Regions from separate parts of the Homo sapiens genome. Here regions 2, 3 and 4 are each linked to region 1. The links come from fine-mapping of genetic effects on gene expression. A gene starts in region 1. Each other region holds a variant in brackets. All regions are shown on one strand. Distances are between the middles of the regions.

Evidence for each region. PIP is the estimated chance that this variant, and not a neighbour inherited with it, causes the effect.
Region 2: its variant is fine-mapped to the expression of MBOAT1 in liver (GTEx, PIP 0.99).
Region 3: its variant is fine-mapped to the expression of MBOAT1 in whole blood (TOPMed, PIP above 0.99).
Region 4: its variant is fine-mapped to the expression of MBOAT1 in CD4 T cells (BLUEPRINT, PIP 0.95).

Annotation. Positions count from the first base shown.
Region 1 is chr6:20,210,137-20,215,322 of GRCh38, reverse strand. It overlaps MBOAT1 (membrane bound glycerophospholipid O-acyltransferase 1), which reads left to right and starts at 2,854. Exons shown (of 13, transcript NM_001080480.3): 1 at 2,854-3,187. The coding sequence starts at 3,089. RefSeq lists an enhancer at 1,826-2,326 and a silencer at 2,509-3,048.
Region 2 is chr6:20,123,078-20,128,077 of GRCh38, reverse strand. It overlaps MBOAT1 (membrane bound glycerophospholipid O-acyltransferase 1), which reads left to right. Exons shown (of 13, transcript NM_001080480.3): 7 at 1,378-1,561; 8 at 3,478-3,670. Among named protein-coding and RNA genes, the nearest start is that of MBOAT1, 87 kb to the left of the region's middle. RefSeq lists a silencer at 1,067-1,194. The variant T/C (reference allele first, on the strand shown) is at 1,904.
Region 3 is chr6:20,089,648-20,094,846 of GRCh38, reverse strand. No RefSeq gene overlaps it. Among named protein-coding and RNA genes, the nearest start is that of MBOAT1, 120 kb to the left of the region's middle. RefSeq lists an enhancer at 2,151-2,654. The variant G/A (reference allele first, on the strand shown) is at 2,980.
Region 4 is chr6:20,232,700-20,237,898 of GRCh38, reverse strand. No RefSeq gene overlaps it. Among named protein-coding and RNA genes, the nearest start is that of MBOAT1, 23 kb to the right of the region's middle. The variant G/A (reference allele first, on the strand shown) is at 2,772.

The DNA of each region.
Region 1 (5,186 bases):
ATAATGTCACATTCTGAGCATGGTTCCATAGGGAAGATTCATAAAACTGACCTTGATATCAAGCCTCACTCTACTGCAAATAGAAAACAGGAGAGACAGCGTGTCTGTGGCATCACCCCTACCACCTCATTTTGAATGGTAAATGTAATGTCTCGTCTACAAAAATGACAAGGTTGTATCAGGTGTGTGGGCTGGCCTCTTGATAAAGAGAAAAATACTATGTTTTAGAGGAGGCAATGCATAATGAATAAAGAGCCCAGGCTCTGGAATCAGACAGACACATTTTACTTAACCTCCCTAAATACAACCAAGTCACTTAAGCTCCCTTAACCCCAGGTTTCACATCTATAAAATAGATTCTTATAACTACCACAGGATTATTAGCACTGGTAAATGAAACAGCTTTTGTAAAGTGATTTCTAACATATGATAATAATTATTGTGAACCTACAGTTGACAGAGGATGGAAATAGAGATACTGATGAAGGAAAAGAGCAATGTGTCCATGGTGCCGCTGTTATACATCTTGGACTCATATAAACAACTTCTTCAAAGTGTGTTTCATTCATCTGTAGTGTAACAGAGCTACTCTCTTGGTTCTGAGTTATCCAACAGTAGTATTTTTTTTTGCATTAATTGTACTACAGTATCAAGAGAAAAGAACTATTAAGTTCTGTGACATTTTGTTTATAAGCTCTAACCATAGTTACTACATTTTTATTTTTATTTTTTTTTTTGATGGAGTCTTGCTCTGTTAGCCAGACTGGAGTCCAGTGGCGTGATCTCTGCTCACTGAAACCTCCGTCCCCTGGGTTCAGGCGATTCTCCTGCCTCAGCTTCCCAAGTAGCTGGGATTACAGGTGCCTGCCACCACACCTGGCTAATTTTTGTTTTTTGGTAGAGATGGGGTTTCACCATGTTGGCCAGGCTGGTCTCGAACTCCTGACCTCAGGTGATCTGCCCGCCTCGGCCTCCCAAAATGCTGGGATTACAGGCATAAGCCACCGCACCCGGCCATTTTTAAAAGAAAAATTTAGACTAGGTTATGAACTGTGTTTTGTTAGGGAGAAAAAAACCTGTGTAAGGCTAATACATGTATATATTTTACATATACATATATACATATGTATATATCAAACCTGTGTTATATATATATATAAAAACTGTGTAATATATGTATATATAAACCTGTGTAAGGCTAATATATGTACATATAAAACTTTACATATATAAATATATTTATATATGATTATATAAATTAATATATTTATAATAAATATATATACACACGCACACACACACACATATATATATATGGCCTATGTGAGGACTATTCTTTGAAGTCTAAAAGGCATAGCTTTGTGAAAATTATAAAGGGTCTGAGGCACTTGCTCCAGAAATACTTCCCAAACTGACCTACTTCTGTTTTCCAGCAACTCATATCTGAGTGTTGATTTTTTTTTCCTTTTAAACAAAGCTCCGTCTGCTCTCATATACCTCACTTCAGCTGTCATCTAGCTCCAGATAAGATGAATGTTGCTCCAATGCTGGTCATTTTCCAGGACTCTATGATATTAAATGAACCTATCTAGCCTAGTGATCCTCAAGTATATGCCTGTGTGCGTGTGTGCATGTGTCTGTCTGTCTGTAGTGTGGGTTTGCTTGTGAGTGGTAGAGATTATCATCTGGTGGTGACATCTCCATTCGGTTAGCTTGTGGGAGTGGTGGTACAGACTTTTTTTTTTCCTCCTCCACAGGGGACATAGGTTGAGAAACTCTGGCCTGGCAATTTAATGCTCAGTGCAGTTTGATGGTGATAAAACTCCTGAAGAAGGCAAGAGTGAGGCCTGAGTCTTGGAGAGTAAGTTGTTGCCAGTGCCTGACAGGCCTTCGGTTTAATTTGAAGCTGGAGGCCACATTGATAAAGTCGGCCCCGAAAGTCATTGCCTGTCTGATCGAATGCCGGTTTACCCAGCGGAGGCTGGGGGCCACGTGAGCTCACTTTCTTTGGTTTTCTACCCAGCAGCCCAGAATATTACCTTCCTGAAACCCTTTTTCATCAGCTAGCGATTCCTGAAAAGGATCTTCAAGATTTTTATGTTTCTCAGAACCTAGCAATAACTTGGAAAAGTTTTCCAAGTAACATTGATGTGTGGGTGTTCGGGGGCAGACAAGTTAAGGAGCAAGGCACCCTTTTTGAGGACCCGTGGCATGCAAATGACTTATCAGAATGCACATAGTATGACAGTAAACACCGTTTCTTACAGAGGTGAAATAACTCTCACTCCACAGAGACGGAAGTGACCCGAAGCTAGCAGTCCCCTGTATTTGCTTGTGTGACACCGAACATGTCAGATCAGGGTGTAGGAAACTATGCCTAGCGCAGAGGAGGGTAAAGGAAGTAGGGAGTCTGGTGGCTGCGGCGCTCCAGCTTCCAGCCACCGGCAGAGGAACCCTCTACGGCTTGAAAGGGAAACGCAGCCACTCAGCCGCTTCGACTGCGGCGGCGAAACCAAAACAGGGTGGGGCGGGGTGGGTGGTGCTCTCTAGTGGAAGGCGCCCGCTGGGTGAGGTCGTTTTGTCTGGCGGGGGGCTAGGACGGTCAGCCCGGGAGGAGGAAAGGCGCGTCCCGCCTCCAGCTGCAGGGCCAGGCGGCGGCGCCCGCTGGCGTCGCTTTCCCTCTCCCGGTCGGCCTCGGTGCAGGCCAGGCTGGGCGGGCCGGGCGGCGCTTGGGGGCCGGGCTCGGAGTCCCCACTTTTCCTCCCTCCTTCCCTCCTCTCGGGGCCGTCCCGAGCGGCCGGGCCAATGGGCGCGGAGAGGAAGGGAGCGGGAAGCGGGGCGCCTTGGGCCCGGCCCTCCTACGGCGCCCGTGGCTGCAGCGCCAGCGCCAAAGCCAAGTTTGCGCCTCGAGAGTTTGCGCCTCGAGAGTTTGCGCCGGTTCGCATTCCCCGGCCTCCCGTTCGCTCCCCCGCGAACCAGGCGGCCGTGCGCCTCTCGGGGCAACCACCCAAGAGCACCCGGGCGGGAGGACGCCGAGCAGGGGGTGTTGCGGGCTGGGACAGGGGCAGCCACCTCCCGAAGATGCAGGATGGCAGCAGAGCCGCAGCCGTCCAGCCTTTCCTACCGCACCACGGGCTCCACCTACCTGCACCCGCTCAGCGAGCTCCTGGGCATCCCGCTGGACCAGGTAACTGCAGGCCGGGAGCGCAGCGACCCCAGCTCCCCAGCGATCGCGTGCACGGGGCGGGCGAAAGTGTTAGCCACCGTCCCTCCGCCTCCATGGCGTATTTTACAGCCACACACTAGACAGTTGGTTTTTGTGTGTGTGTGTGTGTGTGTGTGTGTGTGTGTGTTTTCCCTTCTTGAGTTGGTGTTAGTGTTTTTCTCCTTGTAAGTGTGAAAAAATATTGGTACAGCCTGCGCGGCAAGTTCTACTGAACTTTTTTTTCTTTAAGTTTGGGATTGCCTCGTTTCCTGTAATCAAGTTCTGAAGTAGTCTGATACATGAAACCAGTGTTTCTTTCATCAGTGTCCTCAAGTCGTTATTGTTTTTAATTTAGATGACCCTACTTAAAAAACAAGCGCGATGAATCTGTAGACGGTAGTCTATAGATTTTGAATGCAGGACCTGGGTTTTAGACTTCTGAGGCGAGGCTTGTTCAGGGGTGACAGTTATTTTGTACCGTGTGTGATGCGGGACACACAAGGACACTTTGGTTTTCCCAGGGTTCGGTTGGCTCATATGCCTGGGGCTGGAGCTTCTGAGTAGGACAGGTTAGGGGGAGGAGAGGGGCCCCAGTGAAGTTATTTGAACTGTCCAGGAATTATCTACAACCATTAAAATTAAAAATGGCAACAACAGTGATTCCTGGCAAGAAACCTTCCTGAAGATGAAGCCCGTCTTACTCATTTCCTTGTCTCTTCAGGTGCTGCAGGCTAGATCTGCGGGATACTTAGTAGTGACCCAATCAGTAAATGTTGATTTAAATAGAATTGGGCAGGGCATGCTGGGGGAGGACCCACTGCGCTCCTGTTTTGTTTCATGCTTTTTTGCCTGGTTTTCTTCCCCTTCCTCTCACCAGTGCTCCTTTTCCTTTCCTTTTAACAAGAGCACACCTGCTGCCCTTTGCGCACACCCCTTCAGCAATGAGAAAGTGAGACCTGGACATTTGCCTTATTCGGGTCCTGTTTACTGAGCCACCCTCATACCTGGCTCACTCTGAGGACCTGACTGAGAACTCCACCTGATGTGACCATTGCGTTCTCATCAGTTGCAGAATACAGAAAGTCAGAAACTTGGGAAGGGTTTCGGTGCCAAAGCATTTGTGCTTTTGTAAATTACTCTTTAGTTTCTGGTGAGGATGAGATAGACCCAGGGACCCAGGCAGAGGCGGACATAATAGCAAATTCTTTAGTTCTGAAATTAAATAAAACTCATAGCTGAATTTCCTTAAGGGGAGTTTGTTTTGTACTTACCTCTCCACTCCCTATCAGAAGGTATTTTAATTGCATTTTCTCTTCTAAGCTCTTCTACACAGCTAGAAAGACTCCAGGAAGGCTTTTTGTATGGCTAAAGGACCATGGCAAGTTATGGCTGGGAGGTGCTAGAATAATGTTTTTAATGTCTTTCAATTGCATCCCCTACTTTCCTATAAAGGTAATTCTGGTTTTAATTCATAAAAAGGAACAAAAGAGCCTTAGGAATGTTTAAAACTGGGAGGGAGGGAGGGAGGGAGGGAGGGAGAGACTTCTGGGATAAACCGAAGGAGAAATGTTTGCCATGGCCAGGAGCACCTGAGATCTCTTAGCTCTTAGGTCAGTCTGACCACCCTCCAGCAGGAGTGAGTGTGGATGACCCTTGGTGGAAGAAGCACTTAAAAGGCAGTGCCCCAGGTAGCTTATTTTAGGCCCAAGGAAAATCCCCAAACCATAAATAAGGTCGTTTGAGGCTACGTTGTGGCTTGCGAGTTTGGAAGCTTTGTGTGTTTTTTCCCTTTCACATTTTTAAGGCTTTTTAAAGGCTTAGATGTCAGACTGACCTGGGTGCAATTCCAGTTCTGCCAGCAAACTTCCCTTTGTGACTGCCAGCTGGTACTCTACCCTCTTGGAGACTCAGCATCCTCATGTAAAATGGGAGATGACAATAAGACCTACCTTTTGAGGTTGAGAAATTTTATATGATGTGA
Region 2 (5,000 bases), 87 kb after region 1:
GCTAGACAGAAGCAGGGACAACTGGCATAACTGAGGAAGGTTCCAGGTGGTAGAGGAGATTGACTTCTTCATTCCTGCATTAAGGAATTGGGACTTGGAAGCAGTGGAGCACTATTGAAAGATTCTAATGAATCAGCCCTTTCCTAAGCACAATGGAGGTGTAAATGCTGTAGGGCAGCAGTCTCCAACCTGTTTGGGACCAGTTTAGTGGAAGACAGTTTTTCCACAGACCCAGGGTTGCGGGTGGTGGTGGGGGGATGGTTTCAGGAGGGCCTTACATTTATTGTGCACTTTGTATTGTTATTACATCGTAATATATAATGAAATAATTATACAACTCACCATAATGTAGAATCTGCGGGAGCCCTGAGCTTGTTTTCCTGCAACTAGGTGGTCCCATCTGGGGGTGTTGGGGAACAGTGACAGATCATCAGTCATTAGATTCTTATAAGGAGTGTGCAGCCTACATCCCTGGCATGCACGGTTCACCATAGGGTTTGCACTCCTATGAGAATCTAATGCCGCTGCTGATCTGACATTAGGTGGCGCTCAGGCGGTAATGTAAGTGATGGGGAGAGGCTGTAAATACAGATGAAGCTTTGTTTGCTCACATGCCGCTCACCTGCTGCTGTTGGCCCAGTTCCTAACAGGCCACAGACCAATACCAGTCTGAGCCCCAGGGGTTGGGAATCCCTGCTATAGGGGATAATTCCGGCGACTGGTTAGCAATGACATTTCAGGGAGTCTTTATTCTATCTTGCTAGAACAGGCCTTCCAAAATGCCATTAAAGCACCACACAGAACAGTTCTCTACAGACTTTTTTCCCTCCACTACCTTGGTCTGTTACTCAGGAACTCAGGCCTGGTTGCCAAAGCAGACAACAGGCTGCTACTGCGGTTCTTCTGCGTGGCCTCTTTCAGTGGAAACTGGTTCCACCCATCATTTGTTTTGTATTTATGTTGGCAATCGGGAGGGAGTTTTCCCATTTGGAAGCATCTCGATCCGCTAACATTAGGTCAGGTTCCGCCCTGCTTTATGTTTATTACCTTCGTTTTGTCCTGTAGACAGGAAAGGTTGATGAGATAAGGACATTTCCCAGCCTGAGTTGCACTTGCCCTCGCCCAGCTCTGAGTGCCTACGGCTGTGTCTGGCCAGCAGAGGGCAGCATGGAGCTCTGTGCCTGCTGTGAGCCCCCTGCTTCTTTAACCTTTCCTTTCCACAAGATTTCTCCTCGGCTGACTTTGTAGAAACAAAACAAGGAAAGGTCATGTCATGTATCGAATCTACAGAGATAACATTTGTGTTTGCTTATTTACAGATTCTGAAGAAAAAGCAAAGACTGAAGACTTTTCAATTTATTTACTTTATTTTCACAGAGTGAAACCCTCTTTTTTGGAATACTTAAGTTACCTTCTCAATTTCATGAGTGTCATAGCTGGTCCTTGTAACAATTTCAAGGACTACATAGCCTTCATTGAGGGGAAGCATATACACATGAAGTTGCTGGAGGTGAACTGGAAGCGAAAAGGTTTCCACAGCTTGCCAGAACCTTCTCCCACAGTAAGTTTTTAGTGTCTAGAGAATAGGGTTTTGCTGCCAGGGTTGACTCTCTCTAATAATGGTTCTAATTAAGAAGCCAAACAGTTTACCAGAAAGCTTGGCCAATAACTTTTCTCATTTATTTAAAATACCAGTATAGTTACTTATTTGCAGCAGTTCTATTTTGCAGCAATGGGTGTTTATTTTACTGAGAAGCTCATTGGCTAGGAAAATGAAAGCAGTCAGTTCATCAGTCAATATTTAGTGCATACAAGGTGTCCAGCACTGTGGAGTTAACACGTTTGAATACTATGGGTGTTTTGCCTTTATGAGTTGAAATTCAAGTACAGCCAAAAGATGATA[T/C]GGCATAGAAGGTGAGGGGGAGGGGGACCACGGAACTGGAATTACTGTGTTTTTCTTGTAGAGCTCACTTATTGCAAGGGAAACCAGTTTTACCTTGGCATGCCTAAAGCTTGCTTATGTTGACCTTGAGAGAATTTAAGATGACTTTTTGAAATAATATTTTAAAACTTAACTGAATTTTATCAATCTCTAATTAGTCAATATTAGAATAACTCATTGAACTTTACAAATATGCTCAATTTATTCAGGTCAAATATCCTATATTTAAGGGACATTTGTAATTAACGAAAGGAGTGGTGAAAATTGGAAAAGGAAGGAAATGAGGATAATTCAAGTTAAACATTTTGAAACTGCTAACGCCTTGGCAAAGACTATGAGTTAAGTATTTGAAAACTTAAGGGATTTATTAATTAGGTATGAGTTTTTAGATATTTTTGACATAGTTCAGTTCTCAGCACTTTATGGTTGGTCAAGTATCTCAAGTTCATCTGCTTTACCAAAACGATCTAGGAGTGAAGTCACCATGGTTGTGAGAGACACCAAAGTGACAGCATTTCTAGGCAGTATCTGTCACCTTAGTGTTTTCACGCTTCTCGTGCTTTTATTTATAAGGTAATGTCATCAGAGAGTCTTTCTGCCACTCTCCAAGGAAACACTTGCATTTTTGTGCACAGATAAGGTGAAGTGGTGAGGTTGCGTTTTAGTTCAAGACATACAGCTGGGAAAGGGCTGGGATCCATGAGCTGGTGCCTATCAGTGGTATAGCTGTAATTGTGGCTGAGCGTGCTAAGCACTTAACTGGGATCCAGGCACTGTTCACAGGACCTTGCAAATACTCATTCACTTAAACCCCAAGGTGCCCTCTGAGGAAGGTGCTATTGCTATGCCCATACTACCAATAAAAGTCTTTTTTTTATGAAGTCGGAGACTAGAGTTCTGTTGAATGTTGAAGGACATTCCTTGAAATGTCAGGGGAGCTAGGCAAAATCACTCTGTCCAGAGGAATTTAAAAAGTCAGCACATAATTAACCCCAGAGTAGACTATATCTAAACCACCCTGGAAGGCTTTCTAGAGCTCCCCATTACCTGCCCATGTCCTGGCTGGCCCAGGTATTCAATCACTTGCTCAGAATCCTTCGTACCTGAGCCTCTGTCTTCCCTACTGGTGATTCAAGCCCATTTCCTGGGCTCTGCTGGCCACAGGAATAGAAGGCAAATGTGCAAATGTTTTTTGTTTTTCTTGATGGAAACTTGCCACCCTGTTATCCATTTCTCTTGTGTTTTGGATAATATAAGTACTTACATTTTGTTCGTTGAATATGCTGATGGAAGTTTTCTTCCAGTCTAGATACATTCAACCCCCAAGTGTCAGAGGCATGTTCTGTATCTAAATATAGCACCTAATCTCCATTGTCAGATTTGTCTCATGAGGAAGAATGCCTGTTGTCACTCCTTCTGGGGAATAATGCCAAGCAGCTGTTGGAGCAACGTTGTCCTTAACAGGTCCATTCCAAAGCTGTTTTCTTCATACCTGAGCCTTCTGCACGGTGACACTGATTTTTCCCCATTTTCAGGGAGCTGTGATACACAAGTTGGGCATCACCTTGGTGTCTCTCCTTTTGTTTTTGACGCTAACGAAGACCTTTCCTGTCACCTGCCTTGTGGATGACTGGTTTGTCCATAAAGCAAGCTTTCCGGCTCGACTCTGCTACTTATATGTTGTCATGCAAGCCTCAAAGCCCAAGTATTACTTTGCATGGACATTAGGTAAGTTTGATGGAGTAGCTGTAACTGAATGAGGGAAAAATGCTACTGCTTGAATGGCTTAGCCAGAACGACGTTTTGGATCACTTCATCAAAGAAGCTCAACACGTAATGGGAGGCAGTTGAGTCAGGGTCAGTTTTAACGTACCAACATAGCACTCCTCTCTCCCACCCTCCATAAACTCAGTTCTCCATGATAAGGAGAAAAACACCCTGGCTGTTGTTTAAACCCAATGTTATTAGCAGATGTCAAAACTTGGAAGCTTCTCCTTCTACCAATCAAAGTTGGCCATGTAAAGCAGTGGAAAGTTGAGGGGAAATTCTGGAATGATTGATCTGGCTTTCTTTTTTTTTGACATGGAGTCTCACTCTGTCGCCCAGGCTGGAGCGCAGTGGCACGATCTTGGCTCACTGCAAGCTCCACCTCCTGGGTTAATGCCATTCTCCTGCCTCAGCCTCCCAGTAGCTGGGACTACAGGCGTCCGCCACCACACCCAGCTAATTTTTTTTGTATTTTTAGTAGAGATGGGGTTTCACAGTGTTAGCCAGGATGGTCTCGATCTCCTGACGTCGTGATCTGCCCGCCCTGGCCTCCCAAAGTGCTGGGATTACAGGTGTGAGCCACCACGCCCAGCCTTGATCTGGCTTTTTTGTAGTTTTTCTGGGTTTTATGTAATATAGGATGCACCTTGAATTAATTTGACCAACACACATGCTAATTTAGGTTACACTTCTTTAAGGAACCGTTGTTAGGTTTTTATGTCTTAGAAAGAAGCTGACTTCAAGTGATTTTTTTTTTTTTTTAGGTAGAAAGTTCAACTTCACTTGGTTTTATCACACCTTTTGTTTTTTCCTGTGGGATAACTTGGTCTATATTAAGCTTTTATCTCTTTCCTTTCAAACAATTTTAGACTGCAGTTGCATAAAGCTTTACTAACATGAGCTATAAACCCATCTGTATACTTAGAGACTGGGAAAGGGTGTTGATAAAGTACGGAAGCCCTGTCTATGTCACACTGGAACCCTTTCAGGGATGGGAGTTGTGTGTCTTAGCTGCAAGCGACCTGCGCTTGATGTCAGAGAGCAGTGACTTGGCTTATTAAATAAAATAGAAGATTAAACTTGGTTTCTGAGGGTTCAGCCCACATCTCACGAATGAGGGAATAGCACTTAATTCCTTGAGTTCCTCTTCTCTCTCAGTTCATCCTTCAAGTTTTAAGTTCCAGTTAAAGTTTGCAGGTACCAAATTACTTTTTTTTTAAAAAAAATTATAATTTTTTTGGCTGGGTGTAATGGCTCATGACTATAATCCTAGCACTTTGGGAGGCTAAGG
Region 3 (5,199 bases), 120 kb after region 1:
AATGCACTCTCAGCTTGCTCGGGTGCTCTTGTTCTCCAGCTGGTTGTATGCGTTTTTTCTTTCCCCAAAATGTGTAACAGTTTTTCTTTGTCCACATTCTCATCAGTACTTGGTATTAGCAGACTCTTATGTTTTGCCAATTGGATCAGTGAGAAAAAATGTATAGAGAAATGTAATTCTCAGGCCAGGTGCGGTGGCTCATTCCTGTACTCCCAGCGCTTTGGAAGGCTGAGGTGGGTGGATAATGAGGTCAGGAGTTCAAGACCAGCCTGACCAACATGATGAAACCACGTCTCTACTAAAAAATACAAAAATTAGCCGGGCATGGTGTTGCACGCCTATAATCCCAGCTACTCAGCAGGCTGAGGCAGGAGAATTACTTGAACCTGGGAGTCGGAGGTTGCAGTGAGCCGAGTTTGTGCCATTGCACTCCAGCCTGGGTGACAGAGTGGGACTTGTCTCAAAAAAAAGTAATTCTCCCTGCTAGGCCTACCTTCAGCTCTCTGTTTTCATCATCTGGATGCAGCCAGTGTTATCTTCTTATGTGGCCTTTCAGAGAAATTCTGTGCCCTGCATCGAGCTTTTCAAGTTGTTGCAAATGTTTTACATCATAAGCATTTCTCCATATTATTGCAGAAACTTCCTAAAAGTTGTTTTTGATGGCTGCATAATAGTGTGTAAATAAATGTGCTATAATTTTGAAAAGCAGTCCCCTAATGGTTGGGCATTTGGTTTCTGCTGCTTTATTTAAAAAATATATTCCTTTTAGAAAAATTTGAAAATACAGAAAAGGAATAAGGCATCTATAATCCCAGCCCCTGTTGGCATTTTATTTCTAGTTTTTGTGTTGAAGGTTTGTTTTGTTTTGTTGTTTTATATTTCTGGTTGTTCTTTGGTATCGGCATTTATCTGTGGAAAAGTCTAATGCTTCCTATAGAGTTTGGAATTTTAATTTTCCATTTAACTTTACAGGATGAGAATGTCCACATGCCATGAAATCTCCCGTCTCTTTCTCTCCTGCTCTAATGAGCATAGCAAGGAATGAAATCCAGTGAAGTTGTAATGGGGGTTGACTTGAATGCGGTTAGGTAATTTATTTAATTTTAAGTGGAAAATCACTTGCAAACCTTAACTCTTTAAACTATTGCTAGTAAGAAATGACTTTTACATATTGTATAGTCCATCACAATGTGGAGATTGAGGCCTCCTTCTCTGAACCGTTTAACCCTTTGCCTGGCGAGTGACTGTTTGTTTAGCCTCTCAGTAAATGGGATGTATTTGTTCTTCCTAAGAAGTTAAGGTGGCGATTGCTGAGCATTCTAAGCATTCAGAGTGTGAATGAATGAATGAACAAATAAATGAATGCTCGACTTCCTAATTCAACATGGAAATCACCAGAAATTCTTGATTAATTCTTCCCAGCTTTAGAGCATTCAGCCTCAGGCTTCATTTAAAGTCTACATTTTTTGCGGTATCTCTTGAGGTAGATTTAAGAGAAAACAAGGAAGTGGTCCCAAAACGTATGCAAAATAACTAAGCCTTTCTCAATGATGAACAAGAAATTCCCTCTGTCCAAAGGATCTAAAATTCTTGACTTGGAATGGGATTTTTCTGAAGTGGTGTGAAATATGGACCTTTAAGGCAAAACAGCTTTTTTGGCCTATAAAGTTGAATGATCCCCAAACCCACCAAGCAGCTTCTTTTTATGAATGAGCTTCCTTCCTTCTCAGCCCCATCAAACTTGAATGGCTAATTGATGAAGATTATTTATCAACAATTTCAATAAGAAATGTTAGGAAGGGGAATCTAATAGAGAATGCCAATAAAATACATCAAACTCTAAAACTTTCTAGGACTGTTAAAAATCAATCTACAAGCATCAGTTGATCTCATGAATAAAATATTTCCATCAAAATAAATTTGAAGTTTATTTTATCAATGTTAAATATAGCTGAAGTTGAAATATCAAGCTTGGTTAACATTATTTTGGTGTATAAAAACTTTTAAGAACTTGAAATGATGATTTGCAAACTGGAGTCTCATGATACTTAAAAAAAAATACCAATAAGCCCAGGACAGCCCTGAACTGAATAATTAAATGCATTAATAGCTTATGTAAACTCACTGCAGTAATTTGAACCTTATTCCCGGTAAGGAAGGTGTGAGGCAAACATTTCAAGAAGAAAGCACTATTTAAAACCCCAGTGTGCTGCCTTTTGGATGTTGCTGAATCACTGTTTTTTTGTGAATCTGAAGCAATGAGAGAGGTAGAATTACAAGAAAGTGCTGAGAGAAAGCTTTGCAAACAGAGCAGGGTAACAGAGTAGTCAAAGTGTCAATCCTGCCTTTGTTTTTGCTGAGAAGTCCCTGGAAACAGGTGAGTGATTGACTTCTTGATTAATGCTTCCCAGCTTAAGAGCATTCAGCCTCAGCCTTCATTTAAAGTCTACGTTTTGCAGTATCTCTTGAGGTAGATAGACTTAAGAGAAAACAAGGAAGCAGTCCCAAAACACATGCAAAATAACTAAGCCTTTCTCAATGAGGAACAAGAAATTCCCTCTGTCCAAAGGATCTAAAATTCTTGACTTAGAATGTGATTTTTCTGAAGTGGTGTGAAGTAGTGACATCTTGTGGCCATGTGAGGTAATTTCTGATGATTTCCATGTTGAATTAGGAAGTCAAGCATTCATTTGTTCATTCATTCATTTGTTCATTCACACTCTGAATGCTTAGAATGCTTAGCAATTGCCACTTTAACCTCTGGTTTTTTTTTGTTTGTTTGTTTTGGAGATGGAGTCTTGCTCTGTCGCCCAGGCTGGAGTGCAGTGGTATGATCTCGGCTCACTGCAACCTCCGCTTCCTGGGTTCAAGCGATTCTCCTGCCTCAGCCTCCTGAGTAGCTGGGACTACAGGTGTGTGCCACCATGCCAGGCTAATTTTTGTATTTTTTAGTAGAGACAGGGTTTCACTGTATTGGCC[G/A]GGCTGGTCTCGAACTCCTGACCTCGTGATCAGCCCGCCTCAGCCTCCCAAAGTGCTGGGATTACAGGCGTGAGTCACTGTCTGGTGTTTCTTTTGAACAGTAAATGATAGTCTTTCGGAGTAAAGGTCAGATTTTAATGACCCTATTGCTATAGGGTCAAATAATGAATTGTTTCCCTGCCCTGTCCTCTCTCCACTGTAGGAAAAAAGCACACAGGAGGGTGTGTAAACTCCAAGGAGCAGAGATGCTGAAGGCAAAATAGCTTCATTTAAGGCAAATTTCTGCCTCTACATGCTGTGTGACCATAAAAAAAGTGAGCAACCGGCTCTGAATACTTTTCTTCTTAGGAGGAATGCTAGCAATTATAATTACTCTTCAGAATTGTGGGGATTAAATGAGTTAAACCATAATATGAGTTATGAAGCTGACAGAATTCTCAAATGATGATATAGTGGAAATAGGTCATTGTGATATGGGGTCATATAAGTTCTTTGGAGATCAAGTTTCTTGTGTGTAAAAGGTGGGTATTAAATAAGCTGACCAGCATGGTTGCTTCTGCTTCTAACATTCCATAATTTGATGTTTTTCTTCACACTCTTCTGAACCTCTTTATTTCCAGTAGTGAGCTTCTCAACACTTATTTTTTGGCCTATAACTTTGTAGTATTTTGTTTCCTAGGTAATAAGTTCTGAATGACTTAAAGGAAAATACAGGTGTTTTATATGTTATCTTCCACCACTGACATTTCAGTTTTATGGTTGGAGCAGTTAGGCAAGTTTTTTTTTGCGGGCGGGGAGGTAGGGGAGCGGAAGGATGGAGTCTCACTCTGTCGCCCAGGCTAGAGTGCCAGTGATGTGATCTCAGCTCACTGCAACCTCCACCTCCTGGGTTCAAGCAGTTCTCCTGCCTCAGCCTCCGAAGTAGCTGGGATTACAGGCGTGCGCCACCACAACCAGCTAATTTTTGTATTTTTTGTAGAGACAGGGTTTTGCCATGTTGGCCAGGGTAGTCTCGAACTCCTGACCTCAGGTGATCTGCCCACCTCAGTCTCCCAAAGTGCAGGGATTACAGGCCTGAGCCACTGCGTCCAGCCATTTAGGCAAGTTTCTGAATTTAGAAAGAAGCACAAACATTCTGGCAAATATTGAAGTCTTCACTCTGTGCCTAGCAGACACAATAAATAACATGCCTTGTTCACACACGGAAGTGTGAAGTAGGCATAGGTTCTCTTCTGGCCCATGGTTACTAGGCCAAGCAATGCAGTGAATTAATCTTTCTAGTTCTTCCTTCCCAGCTCACTTGTTTCTCAACAAAACCTGGGACTTGGATAAAATTCACAGATTGAGTTTATGTCTTACCATCGTGGGGGAAAATATTTCGAAACAACCTATCTTTTAGGCAAGTCTATTCTTTCCTTCCTCCCTTCATTTTTTCTCTTTCTTGTGATTAGTTTTCTAAACACTGCAAGACTAGTTCCAGAACCTCATGAAAAGAGGTGACACTCTATTTCATCCCACGTTTTGTTTGTAATTCAGTTTATAAAGTGCTTTCTCTTACATTATTTCCTTTGTTTCCCAAACCAACAATCTAAAGTTAGTGGAACCAGATGTTACTATCCGTTTTAAAATTAGGAACCTGAGGCCTGAATAACTTGAGTGAGTTTCCCATGGACACACCCACAGTAAGTGATGGCAACAGAATCGAAACCCTGGGCTTTCCCCTAGGACTTAGGTCAGGCGTCGCCAAACTGCTCAAGTTCATTTTAAGAATTATATTGGCAGGGCACGGTGCCTCACACCTTTAGTAACAGCACTTTGGGAGACCGAGGCAGACGGATCACTTGGGGCCAGGAGACCAGCCTGGCCAACATGGTGAAACCCCATCTCTACAAAAAATACAAAAATTAGCCAGGTATGGTGGCACATACCTGTAATCCCAGCTACTCGGGAGCCTGAGGCAGGAGAATCACTTGAACCTGGGAGATGGAGGTTGCAGTGAGCCAAGATCATGCCACTGCACTCCAGCCTGCATGACACAGCGAGACTCCATCTCAAAATAAATAAATAAATAAATAAATAATTATGCCAAAAATTCTTCTTGTGCTACTTGAATAACTTATAACTTGTATTTAAAATTTGTTTGTTTTGGTCATGTAAATAAAATTGGGAAGCAGAAAAAGTAAGAAACAGAAAAAAATTGTTTTTTAAGCTTTGTTAATC
Region 4 (5,199 bases), 23 kb before region 1:
CAATTAGAGTTGCCGTGGTCTGGGTTGTAATACAACCCCATAACTCCTATTGTTAGTTTAGCAAGGGTGTGGTTTTTGTTGTAGCTGTAGGAATTTAGAAATTTGCCATGGCCGCTGGGCCCCGAACCCTCAACCCATAGGTAACTTTTGTTTGCTTAAGCTTAGGGTCTGTCTTAGTTGATATTTTGGTCTCTCAGATCACATATGTATCTAAACCTCCATCACACCATGCTGTCTTGATTACCATAACTATATAAGCTTTAACAGTAGTTGGAGTGACTCTTTCTACTTTATTCTTTTTCAAAAACTATCTTAGCTATTCTAGGTTCTTTCTGTTTCCATATACCTTTTAGAATAAACTTGCCTATATCTTGCTGGGGATCATCCCAGGAGATTTTTATTTTCCTGGTCTGGACTACAGCCCTGGCATCAGTATTTTTTAAAAGCTCCCTAGGTGATTCGGACGAATAGCCAAGGGTGTGAACTTTGGTTTATGGCAAGACACACCTAAAGAAAAATTTCTCTTGGAGAGCAAATTACTCAGGGGTTGAAAGTTTAAAGAATAGGTGGGATCTTTTAAGAACATGAAATTTAAAGAAGTGAAAGGAGGAGAGAGAAATAGCAATTTATCTCCAGCCTTGTAAAGCAGTCTCCATTAAATGCCCATACCCTCCATTCACACATGTAGCTCAACTAGTTTTGATGAAACATTCAAAAAATGAAAAGAATTGGTCTCTAGCCACAGAATTCTTACTTAGCTTGAACACACAAAAGACTTAGGTGTAGCCTTGGCCACACCCTTTAGAGGAAAAATAGTCTAGATAGGTGTGGTGCATGTATTCCTCCATGCAGAGGGTGACAAAAAAACAGTATTGAGTGTTTAAAGGTTATTTAAATAAAGATGGTTCACTCAGCAAGAGAGTTTGAACCCTGAACCACAACCAGAAGCCCATCTGGAATAAGATCAATAATGGCAGACATAGTTAGATATTTGTTGTTGCTTTTTTTATCTGAAAAAAATTTTAGCTGTACCCAGTGTGCATCCATGTGGTTACTTTTCTCATAATTTGCCTAAAATTATAACAGCCATCAGTGAATAGGCAAATACATGCTTGAGGGAACATGCTCCCTTTAAACGCTGTTGATAGTTCTTCCCACTGCAATGAATACATATTCTTACCATAGCTATAGACGATATGATAATTCAATTAATATTATTTAAGGGAGCAAAATACAGCCCTGTCCCTATCTTCTCAGTAAGCTGTTGCTTACTAAATATTCAGTGGCACAAAATTTTGAGTCTGAAAGCAGACAGTTTAGGGAATCTAGAATGCTTGTTAGCAACCACATTCGCAGTTCTCAAGGCTGCTGTCTGCGGTGGTCACAGTACCAGGAAACAGAAATCTTTTTTTTCTCACATTTTCTTCCTCTTGCCCTAGTTCCTTCATCTTCACCTGATGATGAGGTGTTAATTTATTTTTAATGATCTCTCTGGCAGTGAAGAAAATGTGCCACCTTGGCTCTCAACTTTTTTTTTTTTTTTAGGATCTTGTTTAAGATGAAGATTCCTGGTCCCCAACTCTAGACATTCTGATTGGGAAGGTCTGACATGAAGACCACCCCCACCACCTTCCAAGTCTGCATTTTTAACAAGTACCTCAATATGATTCTGATCCTGGCAGTGTCTAAACCTGCTTTGATTCTGCAGTAGCCGAGCACCACTGTGATAAAGATGCTTTTAAAATACTCCTGACTTGGGGATGCAAAATGTCCACCCAGGGCTGGAAAGGCCTTGGGGAGAGGCTCTCCTAGTTGACTGTTCTCTCTTTTTTTTTTTTTTTTTTCCTTTTTTTTTTTTTTGAGATGGAGTCTTGCTCTGTCGCCCAGGCTGGAGTGCAATGGTGTGGTCTCAGCTTACTGCAACCTCCGCCTCCTGGGTTCAAGCGATTCTTTCACCTCAGCCTCCTGAGTAGGTGGGATTACAGGCGCGTGCCACCATGCCCAGCTAATTTTTGTATTTTTAGTAGACACAGGGTTTCACCATGTTGGCCAACAAGGTGAGGTTTGTCTCCAACTCCTCACCTCAGGTGATCCACCTGCCTCGGCCACCCAAAGTGCTGGGATTACAGGTGTGAGCCACCACGCCTGGCCTGTTCTTTTTAGACCCCCATCCCCTTTTTTTTTAGTTTCTTCTACCATGGAATTCTTCTTTACTCTCACCACCACCACCCAAAGTGCTCACCTTGCGGTTCTCATAACATCATTAAGAATTTCCACGATTGCTTTAGTCTTTATGGAAGGCCCCTTTTCTAAACTTGCTGGCTCACAAAGAATGAAGCAGAAGCGTTTTGAATTTTGAGGGCATTCTTCTTGCCAGAAACTTCATCGAGAGGGTTCCAGGCTCTGGCCTGACCATGAGGCGTTGGTACTAAGAAAGGGTTCTTCTGACTTCTCTGTGGCCACCTCTTTTGCCCTCCAAAGTGCCCCTCGGCCTCTCTCACAGGACCTTACTGCCACTTTCTCCTCAACACCGGCCCCGTCCCCCCCCCCACCCCCCACTGCCTCTGGGACATCATTTTCTTTCTTCAACGCAACCCCCAAATCAGTTAGTTCTACACCCTATCTGTATCCACACAGCAAGTTATCTTATGACCACAGCTTGATAGAACTAAAGATGTGCATTAGGTTTGCATAGCGAGGGAATTTGTAAACTGAGTACAGCTGTGGTTTCCATCACAGGCCTTTTCACTGACAGACCTGAACTGAGCACC[G/A]CACTGTACTCAGGTTGGCCTCACCACCCTAACCTCTCTGGAAGCTCAAAAGCAGGGACCATGACTTTTACTTTTAGAATTGGAAAAGACATTAAGAGACCTTGTGAGAAGGGAGTATGACAAACAAAAAAACATAGGCTTTAAAGTTCGTGGAGGTGGAATAACAGACCCCAAGGATGTCCGTGTCCTCATTCCCAGAACCCGTTAATATGTTAGGTTCCTGGGCAGGGGGAATTTAACGTTGCAGCTGGGATGTTGGTTGTTAATCAGCTGTTCTGAGAGTAGGGATATTATCCAGGTGGGCCTAATATAAGCATGAGGGGCTCTGAAAGAGAGGCAGAAGAGTCAATGTCAAAGCGTTGAATATGAGAAAGACTCAGCCAACCACTGCTGGCTTTGAAGATGGAAGGGGGCTGAGAGTCCTTGATTGCGGGCAGCTTGTAGAAGTTGAAAAGGTAAGAAAATAGATCCTCCTCTAGACCCTCCAGAAAAGAATGTAGCCCAGCTGACACCTCAATTTTAAGCCAGCGAAACCCATTTTGGACTTCTGAACCTCAAAATTGTGTGAGGCAGAATTGATGGGTTCTTGGTCTCACTGACTTCAAGAATGAAGTGACAGACCCTCATGCTGTTACAGTTTCTAAAGGCAGTGAGTCCAGATTTTCTTCGGAAATTCAGTTTCTCCCTTCGGGTGGGTTCCTGGTCTCACTGAGCTCAGGAGTGAAACTGCAAACGTTTGTGCTGTTGTAACTTTTAAGCCAGCACATCTGGATTTGCTCATTCCTCCCGATGGGTTTGCGGCTTTGCTAGCCTGGGGACTGAAGTTGCTCTGCAGCCTGCATTTATTCGCTTATCTGGCCCCACCCACATCCTGCTGATGGGTCCATTTTACAGAGAGCCGATTGTTCTGTTTTACAGAGAGCTGATTGGTCCATTTTGACAGTGTGCTGATTGATGCATTTACAATCCCTGAGCTAGACACAAAAGTTCTCCACGTCCCCACTAGATTAGCTAGATATAGAGTGTCCGCTGGTGTATTTACAAACCCTGAGCTAGACATAGAGTGCTGATTGGTGCATTTACAAACCTTGAGCTAGATACAGAGTGCCGATTGGTGCATTCACAATGCCTTAGCTAGACATAAAGATTCCTCAAGTCCCCACCAGATTAGCTAGATACAGAGTGCCGATTGGTGCATCCACAAACCCTGAGCTAGACACAGGGTGCTGATTGGTGTGTTTACAAACCTTGAGCTAGATACAGAGTGCCGATTGGTGTATTCACAATCCCTTAGCTAGACATAAAGATTCTCCAAGTCCCCACCAGATTAGCTGGATACAGAGTGCCGATTGGTGCATCCACAAACCCTGAGCTAGCTAGGCAGGGTGCTGACTGGTGTGTTCACAAACCTTGAGCTACACAGAGTGCTGATTGGTGCACTCACAACCCCTTAGCTAGACACAAAGGTTCTCCAAGTCCCCACTCGACTCAGGAGCCCAGCTGGCCTCACCCAGTGGATTTAGCACTGGGGTGCAGGTGGAGCTGCCTGCCAGTTCCCCGCCGTGCACCCGCACTCCTCAGCCCTTGGGCAGTCGACGGGACCGGGCGCTGTGGAGCAGGGGGTGGCACTCGTCAGGGAGGCTCAGGCCGCAGAAGAGCCCACGGCGGGGGCGGGGAGACTCAGGCATGGCAGGCTGCAGGTCCTGAGCCCTGCCCTGCGGGGAGGCAGCTAAGGCCCGGCGAGAAATCGAGCACAGCAGCTGCTGGTCTAGGTGCTAAGCCCCTCACTGCCCGGGGCTTGCGGGCTGAGGCCGCTCCGAGTGCGTGGCCCGCCGAGCCCACGCCCACCTGGAACTCGCGTTGGCCCTCAAGTGCCGCGCGCAGCCTCGGTTCCCACCCGCACCTCTCTCTCCACACGTCCTTGCAAGCTGAGGGAGCCGGCTCTGGCCTTGGCCAGCCCAGAAAGGGGCTCCTACAGTGCAGCGGCGGGCTGAAGGGCTCCTCAAGCGCAGCCAGAGTGGGCGCCAAGGCCAAGGAGGTGCCGAGAGCGAGCGAGGGTGCGAGGGCTGACAGCACGCTGTCACCTTTCAATAATACATTCGTGGTTTTTTTGTTTGTTTGTTTGTTTTTTGACCAAGACTCACTTTGTCGCCCAGGCTGGAGTACACTGGCATGATCTTGGCTCACTGCAACCTCTGGCTCCCAGGTTCAAGCGACTCTCCTGCCTCAGCCTCCCGAGTAGCTGGGATTACAGGCGCGTGCCACCATGCCCAGCTAATTTTTGTATTTTTAGTAGAGATGGGGTTTCACCATATTGTCCAGGCTGGTCTTGAACACCTGACCTCAAGTGAGCCACCCACCCTGGCCTCCCAAAGTGCTGGGATTACAGGTGTGAGCCACCGCGTCCGAGCCATTTGTGTTGTTTTTA